Regions from separate parts of the Homo sapiens genome. Here region 2 is linked to region 1. Evidence: fine-mapped expression QTL. A gene starts in region 1. The other region holds a variant in brackets. All regions are shown on one strand. Distances are between the middles of the regions. Region 1 holds the start of MOCS1 (molybdenum cofactor synthesis 1). Region 2 overlaps LOC102723789 (a long non-coding RNA gene).

Region 1 (11,253 bases):
CCATTGCCTTTCCACAGATAGCCTCAGGGTTGGGGCGGGGAGCACTCCATAATCAAGAATCCCATCAGCCACCGGAGTCCAGATGAGATACCTGGGAATCTGGATGTATTGCAGTGCTGTGCCCTCTTTTTCATCAACAGCTATTTGCAATTCAGTCATGTTAGTCACCCTAGATTCTGCCTCTTCACTTGCCAAGATACCCCCCCTCAACCCAGTCTTGACATGATGGGGGGATGGGGTGGCTGGATGGGGGAGGAGTCAAAATACATCAAAGAATTGGAAGTTGAGAGGACCAAGGAGCATTATTCAGCAGAAACCTGAGAGCAAGCAGTGTGATGGAGCAATCAAGAATGGAATTAGGGGCCGGGTGTGGTGGTTCACGCCTGGAATCCCAGCACTTTGGGAGGCCGAGGAGGGCAGATCATTTGAGGCCAGGAGTGTGAGACTAGCCTGGGCAACATGGCAAAACCCCGTCTCTACTAAAAAATACAAAAGTTAGCTGGCTGTGGTGGCGCGAGTCTGTAATCCCAGCTACTCGGGAGGCTGAGGCAAGAGAATCGCTTGAACCCAGAAGGCAGATGTGGCAGTCAGCCAAGATCGCACCACTGTACTCCAGCCTGGGCAACAGAGCGAGATTCTCTCAAAAAAAAAAAAAAAAAAAAAAATGGAATTTGGTGCTTTTGTTCTGGCAATGGGAGAGGCTGGTCAGATTTCACTTTTAAGAACTTCTGTGACCTTGTCTAGACTTATGCAGACTGCACCACCCGTTCTGAACCCAGCCTCCTAAACACACACACTCTCACCCTGCCAGCAATGCAAACTCATTACTCAGATATTAACGAGCCCCATTCCTGCATCTTCTCTCCTCTAACACTGCATGCCCTACTTTCATTCTTCTACTTTTTTCCCTGTCCCTTAAGTCTCCTGGAGGAAAAAAATATCAGCACCAGTCAAAGGAGCCCAAGATTCAGAGGGAATTATAGGACAGAGTAGACAGCAACCCTGCTTGCTCAGGAGGGCTGGGACATGCCAGAAGTAGTAGGAAGCACTCAACGGATCATATTCCCAGGGTCCCAGGCTGGCCTGGGCTGTTTCCTCTCCGTGAGAAGTCATTCTGCCTGATTCAGTATCCCCAGTGTCTAGCACAGGATGTTGGTACATTTTGAATCACATGAACAAATAGTCCTGTCCCTAATGTAAGCAGAAAGGTCGTATATGCAAAAGCCAGTTACATGGGGGTAATCATTTCCCGGCTGGTCTCTACTGTCAAAATGGTTTAACCTGGTATAGTGGTTTGAAACCCTGGCAGCCCATCAAAATCACTCAAGGAGCTTCAAGAAGGATTCTAGTTTCAAGAAGGAGCTAGAATCTGTCCCAAAGATTCTAGCTCAATCTAGTGCCTCAGCTGTGCAGCCAGGGCTGAGAACCATCGGCCTAGTGACACCAAGTGCCAGGTGCTATTTTAATCCAGGGCAAGTTGTTGTGGTTCTGAGCACAGGATTTGGAGTAGGTGAGCCTATATTACAAGCCTGGCTCTAGCTGTTGAGCAAGTCACCTAAATTCTCGAAACCTTAGTTTCCTCATCTATGCAGTGGAAATAATAATCCAACCTAACTCAGTTGGAGGAGTTCCTGGCACCGAGGTTTTCATTCAGTGATCCATGGAGGAACACTGTTGTGTGCTGTGATCAGTTTTTCTAGTTTGTCAGCTTCCCTTCCCTTCCAAGACCCTGGCCTTCCAACCCTACTAACAGCAGATGGCCAGAGGCAGGGTTTCAAAGCTGCTGCCACACCACCCAAGTGGGGTCTGAGCATCCCCAGGACCACCAATACTGGTGTGCATCAGCAGGCACTAAGCAGCCTGCCAGACACTACTGGTCATCTCATGTCTACCCAATGCAGATTAGGGTGAAGGGGGTGGGGAAGGGTGGGACAAAAGAGTTAAAGCGGGACCCTGCCCTCAAGGTGCCCTCCTCTACTAGTCACTCATCTTAGGCATCTGATTTGACTGCTAAAGGCTAGCCCTCAAATAGCTCCAAAGTCTAAACAGAGCAGCAGGGTTATTCGAGAGGAAAAAAAGCACATTCCAAATCTAAGTATCGTGGCCCTGATTTACCCTGCTATTGGGATGATGTATACTAAGGGTCTCTTAAAATTAATCTCTTTTAAATGAGAGGACCCAACAAAGAGCCTAGCCTAGCTCGATTCTCCTTCCCCCTCCCCTCATTCCCACCCTAAGTGTGAGGTCTTTACACCTATAGCTTCTGAGGAGGACAGTCACATTTCGCTGAAACATGGATTTTGAGGAGCTGGGCAGATTGGAAGTCAAGATGACCTCCTGAAAGCCCTCTTTCCCTCCTCCCCCTCATTCTCCCTCACCAGTGCCTGCTGTACTCCTTCTACCTTCACCCACACCCACTTCCTTGCAGCCTAACCCCTAGCCAGCATTTGTTTTTTCTGGCCCCCTGAACAGATGGGTGCCTTTGCCTTGCCTAGACTCACCCTCCCTGCTTCCCCCGCCACAGGCAGCAGGCTTCATTGTTGCCCAACAAAGCCTGCATGGAGCCTCAGAGGGAGAAAGAGGGATACAGCACTCCCAGGCTAGGCTGAACCCTACAAAGATTGTCTGGGCCACCCCAGATGCAGGCTGGCAGGTTGCTGTGTCTCCCCCACCCACCTCCCCATTGACCCACACACTACTCCTTTCCATAGCTAGAAGCTACTCGACCTGTTCTTGGACTCAGCCCACAGCCCCCTTTCCGCAATCCTCACAGCCAGCTCCCACTTAACCTCACTTCTCTCCCTCACACCCTCATCCTGCCACACAAACAATGCCCAGTGGCTTTCCATCCTAGCTCTCCAAGCACCTCCCATCCCAAACCAGACTACCAGAGCCCTGTGTGGGCGTGTTGGGGGAGACAGACCCTGCAAGAAGGGGTTCAAGGTGTCCCCACCCCAACTGGCAAGCTCTGGAGATGAGCAGAACATATCCATTTCCAGACTCACCTCCCCTTAGAGTCTCCTCAAGACAAGTTTCTGTGCCCTCCCCCATCTTATGATGGGCTGGCCCAGTCCTCTCATTTTATAAACATGAAGCAAAGGGAAGTGACAGCCCCAGGAGCCAGGTGAAATTGGAGGCGAAACTGGCGGGTGAAAACATGGGACTCCCTGTCCAGTGTGGTCTACTATGCCACGTGACTCCTCACTAGTTAAGTTTCAAGCAGCTACAATTATTGGCTGAATCCACTGCCTGCACAACCCTGCGTTAAGCGCTTGTGGGGATAGAAAGGCGGAGGTGCACCCAGCCCTCAGGAACTCCCAGTCTGCTGAAGATAATCCTAATGAGATGTCCAGGATTCAATGTGAGTTGACAGAATAGCTATCCAACAAGTCCAGATGGGAGGGGACTCACAGGACAGAGCATGTGCCAGTGGCAGCATGGATAATAGTAATTACCACCAACATTTACATAACACAGCACTTACATGGGCTAAGCTTTGTTCTAAGTATATACGTTAACATACGTTAACTCTTTTAATCCCTGTGACATCCTATGAAGTAGACACTTTTATTCTTACTTTGCAGATGAGAAAACAGACACTGAGAGGTAAGGGGACTTGGTGAATCCCTAATAAGGGATGGGGCTGCCCCAGAGTCTATGTTCTCCTTTCTGCCACATTACCCCTCCCTTCACAGTGTAAAGGGATGGATAGGAGCAGGCTCTCTCCCTGGCCTCCACACAGGGAGGACGGAAAAGCATTAGAGTTGAGTTCCTGCCCTCTACAGCTCTGCGACTGGAGGAAAGTTAACTTAGATTAGCCCCCTCATCTGAACATACAAACTCTACTCACCTCACATGGCTTAGTGAGGACTAAATGCTTCCACATGTGAGTCACTCAACACAGGTTCTCTCATGAAAGACCAGTACAAAATAAACTAGGGGGTGGGGGGCTGGAGAAGAAAAGTCCCTTTTCTTGAATTCTTTAAAGATCTCTCAGCCATCTTTGCTTTCCTATCTCTTCCTCAATGATGTTCAGAGTTTGAGGATACTAAAAAGTCTTCACTTCCCAACCATGGGCCTGCTTATCTGAGGATCCCAGAGGGGCTTAGATTTGGGGAAAGCAAATTTGGCGGAAGTCATTGAGCAATATAGGGGAGGAGGGAGCAGTGATCTTATGAATCCCAGGACAGGAAGCCTAGTTCTGGGAGACGGGGAAAAAAACGCCTAGATAGGTACCGAAAAGAGGTTTCACTAAATGAAAAGAGGTACTTTTCCCCCCAAATTATTCCCTAACCACCTGAGCAGAAGAACAACCAAAACCTAAAACTTTTAATGACTTGAAACACTCTGAGGGGTGCTGGCAAGGACTGAGGGATCTTACCCAAAACCCTAAAGACAGAGGAATTAATTTCTCACCTGGAAGAAGCCACGTCCTGCCCTGTTCTGCTCTAGGATAAGGCTGAACCCTCCCAAGGTTAATAAAAAAGACAAGGAGAGTCAGCAAAGGATGGGTTACAGAGCCCTGGGACTACAGTAACAACTCATCGTTGGTGACACCGAGGTGACATGTTTAGTCAGTCGCACTATGAAGCAGGTGTCACAGGGACACCTGATCTCTCAGCTCTTGGGATAGGGAGGGAAAATGTTTAAGAAAGAGGGTGGGTGCAAGGCAAGGCTGAAAGGTACTAAGACACCTCACTGGACCCAAAGTCCCAGTCCTCTGCTTACCCGAATTTCTGGCCAAGCTCAGGGCTAGAAGGGGTGGCGTGGCTGGGGGGCAGGGAGGTTCTGAAGCGGGACTCCCAGGAACCTCTCCCGCTGGGCTAGCGGGTGAGACCGGGCGGTCCATCTGGAGAACATCGCTCCACTGAGGAGTGCCAACGGGTCCCTCCCAGAAGCGGTCAAGCAGATAGGCCGGGAGCTACTGGGGGAAAAGGGCAGTGTGCCGGGGCCACTCCTGCCCCGGGAAGCTGTGGACGCAGGCGGGGTGGGCTCACCTCCGAGGCAGCTCGCGCGGACTCCCCGGGGCAGGGCTGGGTCACCGGAGCCCCTGAGCTGCAGCTCCGGGCGCTGGACCTCAGAAGCCGCCGCAGCATCCGGGACAGTGGCCGCGCCGCCATGAAGCCTGATACGAGCGGAACCGCAGCCCGCTTCGGGAGCACACTGGCCGGGCACTCGCCCCCGGGGTCATCCCAGCAAGGGCGGGGAGGGGCAGGGGGAGGGCGGGACCCGCGCAGCCAATAGGCGAGGACGCAGTCCCGCGTGGCCTTGTGGGAGCTGTAGTACGCTCCCTGTGCCCACTTTCCTGGGCCGGGGTAGCGCTCTAGGGCAGAAGGGTAAACTCAGGTAAGGAACGGGGTTCTTTTCCTTCCAGTTTTTCTGGCTGCTCTAGTCTCAGATTTAGGTCGTGGTGTGACAGTAGGCAGGACAGGACAAGGGCCAAACGAATGAGGCACTGCCTTGGATGCAAAATTTAAGAGGGTGCCAGGTAAACTGCGGTTATCAAAGTAAGTAATTTTTTAATGTAATATTTCAAAAAATCGTAATAAATTTTCAGAAGTCCGTGAAATATCAACATTCTAAATAAAAAGATTTAGCCTACACTTGCATGACTCACATCACTCAGTGCACCATAGTGCAGATTGTGGTTGTAAAACGGTCAGTTAGGTCTTTCAAGATACACTTCTCCAGTTGTGCCCCAAAAGGATATTAACAATCTTTTTTTTTTTTTTTTTTTTCGTGGAGAAGGCAAGAGTATATGAGAAGTCACAGAATGAGTGGACAACATTTTTGAAATGCTTCTTATACACCAAGCACCATGCTAAATGTTATTTAAAACAATCCTGGTATGAATAGAATGTCCTTTTTGCAACTGAGGACATTGAGGCTTAGAGAGACCAGGTAATTTTCTCGAAGTCACACAGCTGATAGTGGGTTTCAAACCCAGGGCAATCTGCTTTCTACAGTCATTCAGTCAAGATTCAGTATGTGTTAGGAATGGTGGGGTGTGCCTCTTCCTCTCTATAAAAAGCAGAGTGCTGTAGTCCTTTAAGATTTTGGATAACACACACAATAATGAGCTTATGTACTAAGAATAATTATGCTCAAACCAGCCTGTTGTATCCAAAACCCTGTCCCTGTGGAATTGCAAGAATAAAACACCGGCTGGAACATACAGCTGCCAAGTGCATGCTTAGGAAGTGGGAATATAGCTCCTGATCTTGAAGAATTGACCGAATAGTGGGAGAGGAAAAAATAACTGAATATAACTGACTTTTACAAGTGCAGTGGGACTGTCAGAAAAGCTGAGATGATTTTAGCCTTAGATTCAATGTGAATTTCTCACAATGATACTCAAAATTCAGAAAATATATTGTAGGGGATGAAAGTGTATCTGGGGTGTGTTTGAAACTGATGAGACAAGTATGCCAGAGGTCTGTTTGCAAGGGGCCTGAAGACCAACTGAGGACTGTTCAAGCTCTGTCCACTGCTAAGTTTAGATATGTCTGGATTTATCAGGAAAACTGGGTATGGGGGAGAGAAGGATAAAAACTTTTTTTTTTTTTGTATGTATGAGGCTTGAAGAGCCTTCTAGAGAGGACTCAACCTCAGGGAAGAAGCCATCTGACATATGAACTTGATCCAAGAATGTCACCAGCTCCTTGGAGCCTCTCTAGATTCCACCCTCTTCATACAAGTTGTATGTGATCATCCCTTCACTTGGGCTTTACTGTCATCTTTTATAGAACTTGGGTCTCCAAGGCAAGACCTAAGGCTTACTCAGTTCTGTTTGAAGGCTGAAATCCTCTCCATATTATCATACATCTACTTGGACTCCTGTAGTGCTGGGAAACTTTCTGGCTTCCTGATGTTGTCTGGTCCACTTAAATGTTTCCCCACCTATTAAAGTTCTTACTTGTATTCAGCAAAAAAGTGCCCCTTTCTGTCAACATATGGTGATTAAGTGTCATCAGGGCCGAATCCTCTGCTAATGGCTGGGAATAAGGAAATACTTTCAAGGGCTCACAGCCTGCAGTAGGGCTCTGATGTGACAAGTCCATGGATTGATTTGGAGGGTTCTGTAGACCCCTGAACTTGAATGCATAATACTGTATTTTTTTTTCCTGGGGAATGGTGGCTTTTTGTCACATGCTCAAAGAGCCTCATGGAACATACTGTCCTAGAAATCTCTCTTTTGTGATACCCTCCTATTGGCCCTAGTTTTAGCCCCCTAGGCATATACATCCTCTCTTTGAGACTTTAACCCAAGTACTCTCTTAGTGATAAACAGCAGCAGTTATTGCCAACCCTTGTACACAATGTCTTGTGAGCCACTGCACTATCTTCTCTAATACAATTTGGTTTGCCTAGGTCCTGGTGGCAGACTGTATTTGCAAGATGGCTGCAACAATATTTCCTGTCTCGTATGTTCTAGAGCTGTGTTGTCCAATAGAAACTTCTGCAATAATGGAGATATTCCATGTCCTGACATAGCTATTGAACACATGAAATGTGGCTAGTGTGACTGAGAATTGAATTTCTAATTTTATTAAATTGTCATTAATTGAAGTGTAAACAGCCATGTGTGGCTACTGGCTACTGTATTATTCAGCCCTATGATAGAATTTTGCTTTCTCCAGAAGGGGTGGAATTAACTTTCCTTCCTTTGCATCTGGGTCAGTTTGTAACTTGTTTGTAACAGTGTGAAAGTGATACTGCATGGCTTTTGAGACTAGGTCAGAAAAATATGATGCAATTCCCACCTTACAATTTATCTCTAGTGATCTGTTCTCCAGCTGACAGGAAGATATGTTTCTCCTTATTCCCTACCCATTTTCTCCGCACTTGACTTTCATCTCCCAACTCCCCCTCAAAAAAAGATCCAGGATGTGATTTCCAGCCATATGTCCATTGTCTCTTCTAATAGGAACCTCAAGTGTCCAGTCATCTGAATATTCATTCAAACCTATCCCCATTCTATCAGTAACTGTGGACTCTCCTTGCAATTTTAAGCATTTTAATGAAGCAATAAAGTTTCAAAAAATATTGTATCAATTATTCCTATCATTTCTCTTTTGAGGACCTTGTTCAGGATAGTCTTTATTTGCCCCTCCAGATCCTTCTCCACCCTGCTCTGAGGACCAGGAGATTGACTTCTACCAACTGCATTGATGGCATCATCCAGGTGCCCTGACCTCTGGTTTCCAGGTGGATCTTGCCAATAGGGAGCATGGCAGGAGATCAGAGAGCAGGAGGAGAGAAAAGCTGGATTATCTATTCTTCCTGATCTCCCCTGTTTTGCTCTGGCTACAGCTGTAGTTGGTGTCATCTGGCCTCTCCGCCATGATTCCACCTCCCACTTAGTCCAGTAACACTATTTCTCACATTTGTTTCTTCACTTCAGACTGGGGTGGGATTGGCTTTCTTCTGCTGATTGTCCTTGGATGCCTCAGCATTCCTGTTGCCCCCCTCAGCCCGCCCACCTTAACCTTGCCCACACCTCCAAAATAGTCTCTCTTAATGGTAAAGAGCAGCAGTTACTTTTTTATTAAAACTTCATTAAAATATCCCTTCAAAACTTTTAGCTGAGTATGCCGTTTCTTGCTGGTTCCCTGATACAGGATTCGTGGACTCCTCCCTTCCATAGTACCCTTTGTTAATAGTGGCAATTACAACAGAGTGACATTGTTTATTTATATGCCTTCTGCACTATAAACCCTCTGAGGGCTGTTGCCAAATCTAAATCATCTGTAATCATACCACCTAGCATGGTATTTAATGCACAATAGGCTCACAATAAGTACATTAAATGGCAGATTCCATATCCTTGATTTGCCTGTAAGATGGCTGTTATGATTTGGATATGGTTTTTCTGTCTCCACCAAATCTCATGTTGAAATTTGATCCCCAGTGTGGCAGTGGTGGAAGGTGTGGGTCATGGGGGTAGATCCCTCATGAATGGCTTGGTGCTGTTCTCATGCTAGTGAGCAAGTTCCCAGGGGAAGGGATTAGTTCCCATGAAAGTGTGTTGTTATAAAGCCAGGACACTTGTCCAGTTTGGCCCTTTTGTACTGATGCTAGCTTCCCCTTTGATCTTCTCCACCATATCTTGACATAGCACAAAAGCTTTCACCAGAGGCTGAGCAGATGCTAATGTCATGCTTCTTGTAATGAGATAAATAAACCTCTTATCAATTGCCCAGCCCCAGGTATTCCTTCTATAGAAGTACAAAACAGACTAAGACAGCTGTGTCAGTCAGCCTGGGCTAGATTGTACTGTTGTAACAAATAACTCTAATATCTCAAAGGCTGAAAATCACAAGTGTTTATTCTCTCATTTGGGCTACATGTCCAGGAAAGGTGTATTTGTCTGCTTTACATTGCTGTAAAGGAATAATGGAGACTAGGTAATTTATAAAGAAAATAGGTTCATTTGGCTTATGGTTCTGTGGGTGTATAAGAAGCATGGTACCAGCGTCTGTTTCTGGTGAGGGCTTCAGGAAGCTTCCAATTATGGTAGAAGGCAGAGGGAAGCAGGCATGACATGGGGAGAGGAGGGAAGTCACATTAAACAACGAGCTCTTGCATAAGCTAATGCAGTAAAAACTCACTTGTCACCTAGGGGATAACACCAACCTATTCCTGAGGGATTTGTTCCCTTAGCCCAAACACCTCCCACCAGGCACCACCCTCCAACACTGGGGATCAAATTTCAACATGAGATCTGTAGAGGACAAACATCCAAACTATATCCAAGAGTTAGCTGTGAACTTTGTTTCTGGTCAGTGTTGCCCTCACTCTGGGTCCCGGCCTGATAGGGCAGCGAATATCCACATAGAACATTGGTGGTTACCAAGAGGGAAAAAGAGTGTGGCAAACAGCAAACTGGCTCTTACAGCTTCTTCCTGGAAGTGTCACACATCACTCTGCTTTAAGCAAGTCACATGGCTGTATCTAATTTCAAAGGGAAGAGCAGCTTAGTCCTCTCTCAGAGAGGGAACGCACATGCTGGCGAACAGTAAAATAACCTTACTCCAGGAACAAACTTCCCCTTGCTCTCTTATGTATCATCCAGTTTTTCCATTCAACTCTTCCACTTCTTTGCACCTATCACTCCCCTTGCATACTGAAACCAGCCATGGCAGCCTTATGCATCTGCATGTATCATGCATACCCTCAGAGCCATGAGGTGCTGACTAGGAGTCTCTTGTTTAGATTCTGTCATCAGCAAAACTAAGAGAAGAGTTTGTAATACCTCTTTAATTCGATTGTTTTCAAAGTGTGGATTTCAGAGGTCAACACTAGTTTCATAGTAATATTAAGAAATCGTGCCAGGCGCGGTGGCTCCTGCCTGTAATCCCAGCACTTTGGGAGGCCAAGGCGGGCGGATCACAAGGTCAGCAGATCGAGACCATCCTGGCTAACACGGTGAAACCCCGTCTCTACTAAAAATACAAAAAATTAGCCGGGTGTGGTGGCGGGCGCCTGTAGTCCCAGCTACTCAGGAGGCTGAGGCAGGAGAATGGCGTGAACTCGGGAGGCGGAGCTTGCAATGAGACGAGATCACACCACTGCACTCCAGCCTGGGCAACAGTGCGAGACTCCGTCTCAAAAAAAAAAAAAAAAAAGAAATCGTCTTTTCCACTCTCATGCTCCTATGACCATATAGGAGTTTTCTATGTGTGATTTCACAGATTGAACGCAGAAGCAGATATGAGAATCCAGTTGCCTTCTACTAAGCCAGACATGAAAGCAAGTTGCCAAAATGTAGCGCAATGCCACTTTTTTTCCCCTGTTTTTGTTTTGGAAATTATTGTTGTTTTCATAAAGCATTATGTTAACATGTAATAGGTATTATGGACATTATTATTTTTCAGTGAGTTAAATGTTTTCAGATTTTCTGAGTTTGAATTTCTAATATCATAACTATAAATCAAATAAATTGATATAGTAAATAGAAATTAAATATTTCAAAAGATCTGTTGTACGACATGGTGACTGTGGTTGATAACAATATATCGTATCTTGAAAATTGCTAAGAGATTTTAAGTGTTCTCGCCACACAAAAAAGTGAGGAAATGCAAGTGTTAATGTTAATTAGCTCAATTTAGCCATTTCATAATGAATGTTTCAAAACATTGTATATGATATATATTATTTCTGTCAATTTAAATAAGTTAAAAATAGGTATTAAGTAGATATAACACAAATAAACAAATAAGCTCTTTTGGGATGTTTGATACTTCAGAGCAG
Region 2 (11,253 bases), 28 kb after region 1:
CACACTGTCTGTGCTACCTCCTCATTAGTCACATAGTAGTTATCAGATCAAAAAACAATAGTATATGGCATAGGATTTGGTACTATCTGCAGTTTTGGGCATCCACTGGGAATCTTGGAATGTATCCCCCATGAAAAAAGGGGGACTACTGTACCTAAATATTTACAGCTTTATTCATAATTGCCCAAAACTGGAAACAATCCAAATATTGTTCTACTATGAATGGATAAACAAGTTATGGTATATTGGCACAATGGAATACTACTCAACAATAAGAAGGAATGAACTAGTCATAAATGCAGAGGTATTATGCTAAGTGAAAGAAGCCAGATTCAAAATGCAGCATGACGTTATAGAAAAGGCAAAATAGTAGAGATGGAAAACAGATCAGTGGTTGCCAGGGGCTGGTAGTATGGTATGGGATTGACTATAAAGGGCATGAGAAAACTTAAAAAATACTCTATCTCTTCATTTCAGTGATAGACACACAACTTCATACATTTTTAATAATTTGTAGAACTTTGCACCTAAGAAGTATATCTCCCCGTACTCCCCCAAACTCCCTTCCGAAAGAGTCATCTCTTGCTGGCTGTATCTCTTGACTTGAAGGTCACCCTTCTCAAGGTAGTCTGCTGTACCTGTCTTCTTACCTGTTCAGGTTTAGAGATAATAGCTCAGCTGACTCTAATATTGTGTTCCTATGCTGTTCTTCATGATTTTCATATGTTCTGCCCACATTTGTCAGTAGTCCCATATATAAAACCATCCTAAGTTTTACTAAGTTCAGTGTGACATCCGTTTCTTTGCTGGGACCCTGATGACACCAGGCACAGGTCAGTTGAGCCAGACCCTTTTAGGGTTTCCTGAAAGCTCTGCCCACCATTTTTTACTCATGGTTAGAAGTTAGTCAGATGGCCATCCTGAATAAGAGAGGTGGGGATAGGTAGGTGGTATATTATTGTTGTTGGCTTTTTGGGGGACTGGGAATTGTAGTTATGAAGGAATATTGGATACTGGATAGGCAGTTAGATGTCTGTGTCACAGAGGTAAAGATAAAGAGAGCCTACAAGGGAAGAAACAATATTAATGTGTAGTTAAGTAGACTGAGGAGAAAGGGAATATACATCAATAATCATTGAACTCTCAGCAACACAGTCACATTTTAAAGGTCACTGGCAAATCCATAGGCCCCTGCCTTTGAAGTGCCCCACCTTAAGACTTTTTAATGGGCTTAAAGTTTTTTTTTTTTTATTTTTTACAAATATACTGGAGAATCATGCAATGCTGCCAGCACTGGACGCAATCCAGGGCCACAAGTCTGCACACTCCTTTGCTACTGGTCCTGTAATGGCAGAACCTTTCATCTCGCCTTTATTGTTCACTGTGACCCCTGCATTATCTTCAAAATAAAGAAACACGCCATCTTTTCTGCGGTATGACTTTCGTTGTCGAATAACCACTGCTGGATGTACCTTTTTTCTGAGCTCTGGTTTGCCTTTCTTGACTGTGGCCATCACCGTGTCACCCACACCAGCAGTGGGAAGTCTGTTCAGCCATCCCTTGATCCCCTTTCACGGAGATGACATACAGGTTTTTGGCTCCTGTGTTGTCAGCACAACTGATCACACTCCTACCAGAAGACCCAAGGAAATCTGGAATTTCACACCAGAGGACCCACCACGTCCTCGCTTCAACATCTTGAAAGCCGGAAAGAAGAAAAAAGCACTTAAGGCCTTTTTAAGTGTGTTTTTCCCTCTTGTACAGGCCCATGAATCCAATTAATTTATAACTTTCACCCTGGAAGAATACAAACAATATGCACAATTGTTTAACTTAATATTCTTTCTGTACAAAGAATGTGAATTTTCAATGCAATAAAATCTTATTTAACAACAAAAAAGCATGACATAGTTGTTAAGAAGTTGTGTCCCAGAGTCAAAGTACCCAAGTTGGAATCCTGTTTCCACTACGTGCCAGCTGTGTGTTCTTGAGCATGCTGGTCAACCTCTTTGTGTTTGTTTACTCATGCACAGAGTGGGTGTGGTGGCATGAAAATGCACCTGGCAGACCTTCTAGTGCAGAGCACATAACTAGCCAAGGGTCCCAGTTGCTACAGTTTGGAATCCATCATAGCATGTGTGCCAGGGTCACATCTCTTCCGGGCTGCTCCCCACTAATGACTGAAAATGGCAGGGGTACTAAGGTACATCTATTCCCGAAAGACACGGGACTCCTTTCTTAACCAACTGTGGCTCAAAGACTCTCCAAAGGCTTTGCTGAACATTTCCGAAACTGCTGTGTAGTCTAAGACATTTCTACCCAGCCTTTTCTCCCTTTCTCCTTCACTCAGAGTCAATCTTGGGTTATGACATGATTCTCCCAGCCTTTACCCTCTTTCTCCCATTTCTTTTTCAAAGGCATTTCCCTGAACATACTTGCACATTTATTCTGGTCTTGTCACCTTTGTCTTGGAGGACCCAGATTAACACAGTGGAGACAGTAGTACCTACACCTCACAGAGTTGAGAAGATGAGTTAATTCATTTAATATGGTAATAGTCATACTTGAGAAATAGTAATAACTCAGTCCATTTTGATTGTTAAAGATAGACCCCATCTTACATTTCTAGTATTACAGAAATGCTGTAGCATTGTAGCAGATTAGATAATCCAAAAACCTTTTCATTATAAAATACCATGAAAGTATGATTAAATACAGAAAATAATCTTCTAAATGCATAGCTGAGCTTATAATAACATAAATCCTGGAGCAAAAATGAATAGAGAATTGAAAACCAGAAGTATTCTTCAGTTCACATTGTAGCTGTCCTTAGGTTTGTCTACCTCAGAGACCATGATGGAGGCTTTGCACATGAAGCCGAAAACTATCAAAGAACTACTACTATATTTTCAGAAGAAGGGCAGCAACTAAAAACAAGATCAACCCTTCAGCAAAGAGGGATATCAAGGAAGCTTGTCTGTTTTTACTTGTATTTGAATAAAGGGATAGGATTCCCCCAGACACCTGCTCTCCCTGAAGGCAGAGTTTCACATTTAGATCTCTTATGTGGCTGAGAACTCCCAAGCTGGTAATATCTGTAACAAAGAGAATGTAAGTCCTCTCTGGAGGGACAAAACCTTATCTAAGGTTTCTCAGAGTTCCCTTCAATACAGCCCTGCTAAAGGTGAACTCACAATCCACAATCACAAAACACATAAGAAAAGAATTCACCATGAGTGAGAGTTGTCAGTATTAAAAGTGGGATTATAGTCTCAAATTTAAAAGATAGTAATTGTAAGCATTTTTTAAAATTTTAAGTTAAGTGGTACATGGGCAGATTTGTTACACAGGTAAACTTGTGTCATGGGGTTTTTTTGCACAGATTATTTCACCCAGGTATGAAGCCTAGTACCTATTATTTTTTCCTGATCCCCTCTCTCCTCCCACACTCCACCCTCTGATAGGCCCCAGTGTGTGTTGTTTCCCTCTATGTGTCCATGTGTTCTTATCATTTAGCTCCCACTTGTGAGAACATGCAGCGTTTGGTTTTCTGTTCCTGTGTTAGTTTGCTAAGAATAATGGCCTGCAGCTCCATCCATGTCTCTGCAAAGAACATGACCTTGTTCTTTTTTATGACTGCATAGTATTCCACAGGGAATCAATATCATTAAGCATCTTTTACTCTCTCTGGCTGGAAGTTACATTAATAGTTTTTTTTAAATATAAGAGAAGGCTAAATTATCAAAATCAAATAAAAGTGTTAAAGACTCTCTTAGTTTAAGTTCTCTAGAAAGCAGAGCTTGAGACAAGGATGAAGATGGAGATATTTTATTTAGAAATTACAAGCCCAGTGACATGAAAGTGAGGGAGAAAAGGGGGAAGTGGGGCAAAGAAAGATGTGAAGCAATGTAATATGAGGCATTACTGCACTAGCCACTGGTTCTTGAGAAGCCATGAAGAAACACAGCTAGTCACATAGAAGGTATATTTGCTTAGCACACAGTACCTTTCTGGAAAGTTTTAAAAAAGAAGCACCACCTCTGATTAGAAGGGAGAAAAGAAGGGGGAATTTCTCTGCCCAGCTCCTTCCTGTTTCTCATTTCCCATTGCTCAAATTTCACACCATGGAGACCTAACTCATAATTATTGCATTATTCATCCTTTGATGTCACTCAGAAAGCCAGATCCTATGTCCATAAGTGGAGGAATGACTTGTTGCAGACAGGCATGGCATGTGAGATGTGAGGTCCGTTCAATCTCAGGCCCCCAGCCAGTCTGGGAAGCCGAGTAGAGGCGGCAGTGCGCCTGTTTACTCCAGGGAGTTATCGCAAATAGGAGGAATTTTGAGAACAAGGGAGGCAGTTTGGCTCTGAGAAAGTACACAAGGTTTGTGTCTGATGTGAAATGAGAATAGAGCCATTGAAATTAAGGAAAAATTCCCAGTGGAAAGATTAATCAGATCCAGATGAAGATAGAATTGGGAACTGGAAAAGAAGTGATTTCTCTGTGCTACATTTTGGGTAAGGAAACATTAAAAAATGAGAGGCATGAGAGATAGAGTGAAAAGGTTCAATTTATATTCAGTACAAATTTCAGAAGGTGAGATTAGAGAGAATCAGCAAGAGACTACATCGGTAAAGAATATGAATCCTTAGATTCAGTTTCTATGTGAGAATTTTTTTAAGTCCAAGGGCAGGTTTTGTGCACATAGATTAAAAATCAAACCCAAATAACTAAAAATAAAGTTTTGTTTACTAAAATTGTAAATGTAAACAGTTTTCCCTAAACCTCTAAATTTATCTTATAAATTGTATTATACTGTTTTAAACCCAGTAAGTTTTATATAAAATAATTATTTTCAGGGAGCCTTATTAAATTGGACTGATTACTTAAGGGAGTTTGATTTTGATTAATGTTAAGTAAACCTGAATTGAACAGACTAGTTTTCTGTAAGCACTTTAACATTTATAAATTTAATATATTCCATTTTCTTTAAGAAATTAGAAGTCTAAACTCAACAAACTCATGACCTAACAAACGAATCCTTCCCTCATTATTAAGCAGCTACAGTTCTTTTAACTATCCTAACACTCTTTATAAGTTAAGTCACTTCCTCTTATACCATCCAACCTCAAATCCAATGCACATTTAATTTGGAATGACAGGTCAATTTGTCATTTACTTTAATATGCCACATTCAATTATATTTTACCAGCATTTTATATACCCACCACTCAGATTATCTTGACTGTAACATAAACTAATGTCATGGGTTTGATGCACTTCATAATTTCTATATTCCTGGGGTTAAAAGACACTTAACCCACTAAAGTTCAGTGTTATTTTAGGTTACTGAGACAATTCATGATGTGATTATCACCCAAGGCAAGTTGGATTTGCAACTGGACAGAGACATAGAGACATTTGGCACAGGGATACCAGACTTGGAA[G/C]TGCCTGTGTCAAGTGTGGCTTCATGCATCACAGATGGATGTACTGAGTCCAGTTTTAATAATCTCTAGATTGTTAAGGACCTTTCAGGTAGGGTTGGTACCTACTGTTTCAGTTATACACCATCACACAATACTTTTTGTAATCTTTCAGTTTTATTACTTGATTTGAATCATCTGAATTCTACAATCTCCAACCAAATTTCAGCTGATTTTGTTCCCTAATGTCATCACTACTTGACTAAACTACGTATTTTTCGTGGCTACCAAGAGTCTGGTATTGGTAGACTCTGCTTCTCTCTTTTCTTTACCTAGCTCTATGGTCACAACACCCCTGAATGGTATAAATAAAAGTAGGTATACATTAGACACATTGAAATGGAATCAGAAGCAATGGCTACCAAGAGGTGGAAGTGGCCTAGTCAAAGCAAAAGCAGACCAGTGAAGAGCAAAGATCGTGGCAAAAGTTTCTTGGAATGCTCAAGGCATTTTTCTTGTTTACTTTCTGGAGGGCTGAAGAATGATATCATCTGTTTATTATGAGTGTTTTGAGAAAGCCAAGCTTTATGAGAAAAATACTCAGGAAGACTGCTAGAGAGTCTTTCACTACGACAATGCTCCTGCTTATTCCTCTTAAACAAGGGCAATTTCATGAGATTTGATGGAAAATTAGGCATCCACCTTACAGTTCTGATTTGGCTCCTTCTGATTACTATTTGTTTCCTCATCTTATAAAATCTTTAAAGGGCACCCATTTTTCTTCACCTAATAATGTAAAAAAGGTTGCACTGATGTGTTAAATTCCCAAGACCCTCAGTTCTTTATGGATGGACTAAATGGCTGGTATCATTGCTTTCAAAAGTGTCTTGAACTGATAGAGTTTATGTTGAGAAATAAAATGCTTTATTTTTATCTTTTAATTCCAGTTTCCATGAAATTTTGAGGTCACCTTGTATCTTTTAAGTGCTGAGAGAAGGTAAGAATGAACCTACAATTTTATGCCTAGTCAAACTATCATTCAGGACTGAGAAAAAAGTCATTTTCACAAAGACAAAGACTAAATTCCCTAACAGACTGTTTCTGGAAAAAAAAAAGTTAAACTACATAAATTCCACTCTATGAAAACACTTGCTATTTGCTATCTAAAATGCAGGAACGAAATAGACTTGCATAACATGATATACTTTACAGTCTCAGTATCCAAATTCATTATCCAAACCTAGGAACCAGAAAGTTCAGATGGTGAGGAAAACATAACTAAAGGAAGAAAAATTAAACCCCCCAAAAAAAGAAGTGAGATTCTCAAGAAGGAAAGGTGAGCAAGGAAACTGATTAACATATGGGTAAAACTAAATGACCATTGTTTGAAATAATACAAATAATCATTGTTTTAGGAGGTATACAAAATAGTGGAAATAAAATATGTACTGATTAATATATGAAGTAGAATTGGTAATTGAAATGAAAAGTTCAAGGTTTTGGCAATCGGCAGGAGGAGATTAGAAATATACTAATCGTAGCAGGCACTGTTGATACCGGTTTCCCCAGTATCCTTTCTGCCCACCCAAGTTCATTTGCAACTGTGGTAGACAGTTTTCAACAGGCTGACAGCTCCTGCTGAAGCACATGTCTCTCTCCCATGCCCAATGTCCTTCTCCTGAACCACAGAAACGTGCTCTGCCTTAAGCACCTGTAACCTGGAAGTTTAGGGAAGTTAACACCCATGGATAACGTTCAACCAATAGAGGAGTCAGATAAATGTCCTGACCTCCTTATCCCCTGGCGGGAAAATTGTCAGACACATTCCATTTGCTTATTCAGAGGGTTTGAGCATGTTATCCACAACAGTTACCTGCCCATGAGGGCTTCCCGTATTGGCTTCTCTCTCTTCCCCATCTCACTGTCCCATTCATTCACTTGTGCTTCCTGATTTTACTTCCAAATGCCTGTACTCAAGTTCTTGTCTCAAGGGCAGCTTCTAGAAGAATCTGAATAAGACACCGATTACCTTTAGAATTTAACTAAAGCATGCTTGCTACAATTTTAAGAGTAATCACTAAAACGATACAGACAGGATGTGAAAATTCCAGGTATAAGGGAAAAAAGGAAATGAAAAACCTTAAGTCAATAAAGATAAAAGGGGTGGAAGGGGAAGAGAAAGTTAAGAAAATCTGAGTAAATATTGTATTTCTTAGAATCTAAGAAATCTAGGATGACATCAGTTGTAAAATGTACTTAAATTTTACATGCTACTAAGTTAAAAAAAGCTGCTAACTACAACATGAATTGTAAGAAACACTTTAATTTCAAAGATATTGCAACATGGGGAAAATGTATATCTTTTGGCAGCACCAGAAAGATTCTAGAAATATAAAAGTATTCAATAATCATTATATAAAGGGGCTAAGTCATTTGAAAGGTCAGATTGTCCAACTGGATTATATTTTTAAGATTAGCTCTATGCCATCATTAAGAGATACTTCAAACATGAAAGAACACAAAGGTCACACATAGAAGAATGGAAAAAAGATAATATCAGGCAAATATTAACTAAAAAGCTGGTGTAGGTATCTCAAAATACCTCTAGAAATGCTTTTTTGCTTTAAGGAGAGCTTCTCCATGGTTGTAAAATTTCAATTCCTAAGGAAGATGTGACATTTCTAAATATTATGTACCTAAAACAGCCTAAAAACATAGAAAGCAAAAAGAAGTACAAGGAAACATAGAAACAGCCTAAGAACATAGAAAACAAAGAGAAGTGCAAGGAAAAGGTCAACTCCAGGTAACTCCAAAACAATCTAGTATTGACAGATCAAATAAATAAAAAATTAATAAATGTTTAGCAGATGTTAACATAATGACTATTATATAATGAACATGTAATAAACCCTATATCACAAATTAAAAATATATATACTCTTACACATGGAACATTTATGAAAATTAGCCACATATTAAGACATAAAACCAACCTTACAAATACTGAAAGAATCAATATCATACAGATTGTATTATCTGACCACAGTATAATTAACTTAGAAAGCAGTAACAAAAACATAAAAATACATTTGGAAATTTTCAAACATGTAGTTTTTGGGTCAAAGACAATATTGTAAGAGATATAAAGAAACATTTCAACTGAATAATAATGAAAATCTATGTATCAAAACTCATGCGGTACAGCTAAAGCTACCTTTACAGAAATTTACAGCCTCATATACTCAAAGAAGTCTGAAAATTTATGAGTTAATCATCTAACTCAAGAAATTAGAAAAAGAACAGGGTCCAAAGTAACTAAATGGAGGACAATAAAGATAAGATCAGCAATTAATTGTAATATCTTGCATTGGACTCAGTTTTTTTTTACTCTCCTACAATAGGATTATACATCCACATCCTCTACGTACAATGGAAAGATACTGTAAAGTTACTGGGCAGATATAGTTCCCTGCCCCCCTGAAAAAGGGCTTCACTATCAAGGCCAAGGCTTCCCACTTGGCCTCTGCTGGCCTCAGGACCACCAAAACTCAGCATTTAAACAACAAGCATTGATTTCTTACTGCAGGGTGTATGAGTCAGCTGGGATAGGCTAAAATCTGGGCTTCAGCCTCCAAGTTGCAGGTTGTGTTCAGGTCCTTAAACCTGGAGCACGTTCTTCCCTTAGTGAATGGCAGGCAAGCAACAGATTAAACTAGGCCGGGTTCGGTGGCTCACACCTGTAATCCCAGCACTCTGGGGGGCAGATGCAGGCATCGGAACACCTGAGGTCAGGAGTTTGAGACCAGCCTGGTCAAAATGGCAAAACCCCATCTCTACTAAAAAAATACAAAAACAGTTGGGCATAGTGGCACGTGCCTGTAATCCCAGCTACCTGGGAGGCTGAGACAGTAGAATCACTTGAACCTGGGAGGCGGAGGTTGCACTGAACCTGGATTGTGCCACTGCACATCAGCCTGGGTGACAGCAAGACTCCATCTCAAAAAAAAAAAAAAAAGATTAAACAAAACTGCGCTAACATATTCAAGTCTCCTGCTCCTATCAAATTTACCCACATTCCATTGGCTAAAGCAGAGTTTTGGTCGTCCCCAGGCCAGCAGAGGCCAAGTGGGGAGACTTGGCCAGACTGTAAGGAAGCACCAAAATCTCCTGTCCTCCAAAAACTGGTATCAAAGAAGGCCAAGTGAGAATATTCATCCTTCCTGGCAGTACCAGGCACACTGCACCCACATGGGAGCCTCGATTTCCATGGCCCCTTGGCAGTAATAAGACATCTCTCCCCTCCTGCTGGAGGGTGGGTGTCAGGAAGCCTGTGGAGAGGGCTGGGCCTTTCGCCACCAGCCAGCCATAATGAGGCTACCCTCTACCCCTATGGTGTCAGTGGAGGCTATTTGGAGAACACTCATGAGACACTCCTACCCCTCCCCTCAACCAGGGAGGCCTAGATGGGGGCTGGAACTTGCACCCCTGCCCAGCAGTAACAAGGAGTTCTCTCTCTCAGGTGTTAATAAAGGCCAAGTGGGAAACCTGGACTTCCAGCCCCACCTGGCAGTGGAACCCCCCTTCCCCTATCAGTGCAGTGTCAGAGGAAGCCAGTTAGAACAGAAAATTTATGTAAGATCAGACTCTCATGACATAATACCCCAAATTTCCAGGGTTCAATCACAAATCACTCATCATACCAACCACCAAGATCTCAAACTGAGTGAAAAGAGGTAATAAATGCTCATATCAATATGACAGAGATGTTAGAATGATCTGACAAATAGTTTAAGATAGTCATCATAAAAATCAATGAAAAACAACCAGATTTTTAAAAATAGGCAAAAGATTTGAATAGACATTTCTCCAAAGAAGATATACAAATGGCCAGTAAGCACCTAAAGAGATGATCGGCATCACTAAACATTAGGGAAATGAAAATTAAAACCACAATGAGATAATACCTTACACCCATTAGGATGGCTACTGTCAAAAAAAAACAAAAAACAAAAAATAACAGCGTTGGTGAGGATGTGGAGAAATTGGGATCTTTACGCGCTGTTGGTGGGAATATAAATGGTACTACTACTGTGAAAGCCAGTAGGGTGGGTCCTCAAAAAATTGAAGATATAATTACCATATGATGTAGCAATTCCACTTTCACCCAAAAACTGAAAGCAGGATCTAAGAGAGATATCTGTATGCCCATATTCATAGCAGCATTATTCACAATAACTAAAATGTGGATGCAACCCAAATGTCCATCAATAGATGAACAAGCAAAATGTGGTATATCATAAAATGGAATATTATTCTGCCTCCAAAGAGAAGGAAATTCTAACACATGCTACAATGTGGATGAACCTTGAGGACATTTTGCTACAGTCACAAAAATATCAAATTCTATATGATTCCACGTATGAGGTAGAATAGTCAAAACTAGGGAGACAGAAAGTAGAATGGTGGTTGCCAAGGGCTGGGAGGAGAGAGGAGAGAGGATGGGACATTATTGTTTAATAGGGATAGACAGTTTGAGTTTGAAAAGAGATGGATAGTGATGAGTTGTGTAACAATATGGATGTACTTAATACCACTGAACTATACACTTAATGATTAAGATGAGAAATTTTACATTATGGGTATTTTAGTACAATAAAAAAATAGAAAAGGCTGGGCATGGTGGCCTGTAATCCCAGCACTTTGGGGGGCCGAGATGGGTGGATCACCTGAGGTCAGGAGTTCAAGACCAGCCTGACCAACATGGTGAATCCCCATCTCTACTAAAAATACAAAAATTAGCGGGGCATGGTGGCGTGCACCTGTAATC

Evidence for each region. PIP is the estimated chance that this variant, and not a neighbour inherited with it, causes the effect.
Region 2: its variant is fine-mapped to the expression of MOCS1 in lung (TOPMed, PIP above 0.99).

What each region holds. Positions count from the first base shown.
Region 1 is chr6:39,929,298-39,940,550 of GRCh38, forward strand. It overlaps MOCS1 (molybdenum cofactor synthesis 1), which reads right to left and starts at 5,165. Exons shown (of 11, transcript NM_001358530.2): 1 at 4,998-5,165. The coding sequence starts at 5,120. It overlaps LOC102723789 (a long non-coding RNA gene), which reads left to right and starts at 5,272. Exons shown (of 6, transcript XR_001744112.1): 1 at 5,272-5,346.
Region 2 is chr6:39,957,137-39,968,389 of GRCh38, forward strand. It overlaps LOC102723789 (a long non-coding RNA gene), which reads left to right. Exons shown (of 6, transcript XR_001744112.1): 4 at 6,374-6,423. It also overlaps the pseudogene RPL23P6. Among named protein-coding and RNA genes, the nearest start is that of MOCS1, 28 kb to the left of the region's middle. The variant G/C (reference allele first, on the strand shown) is at 5,451.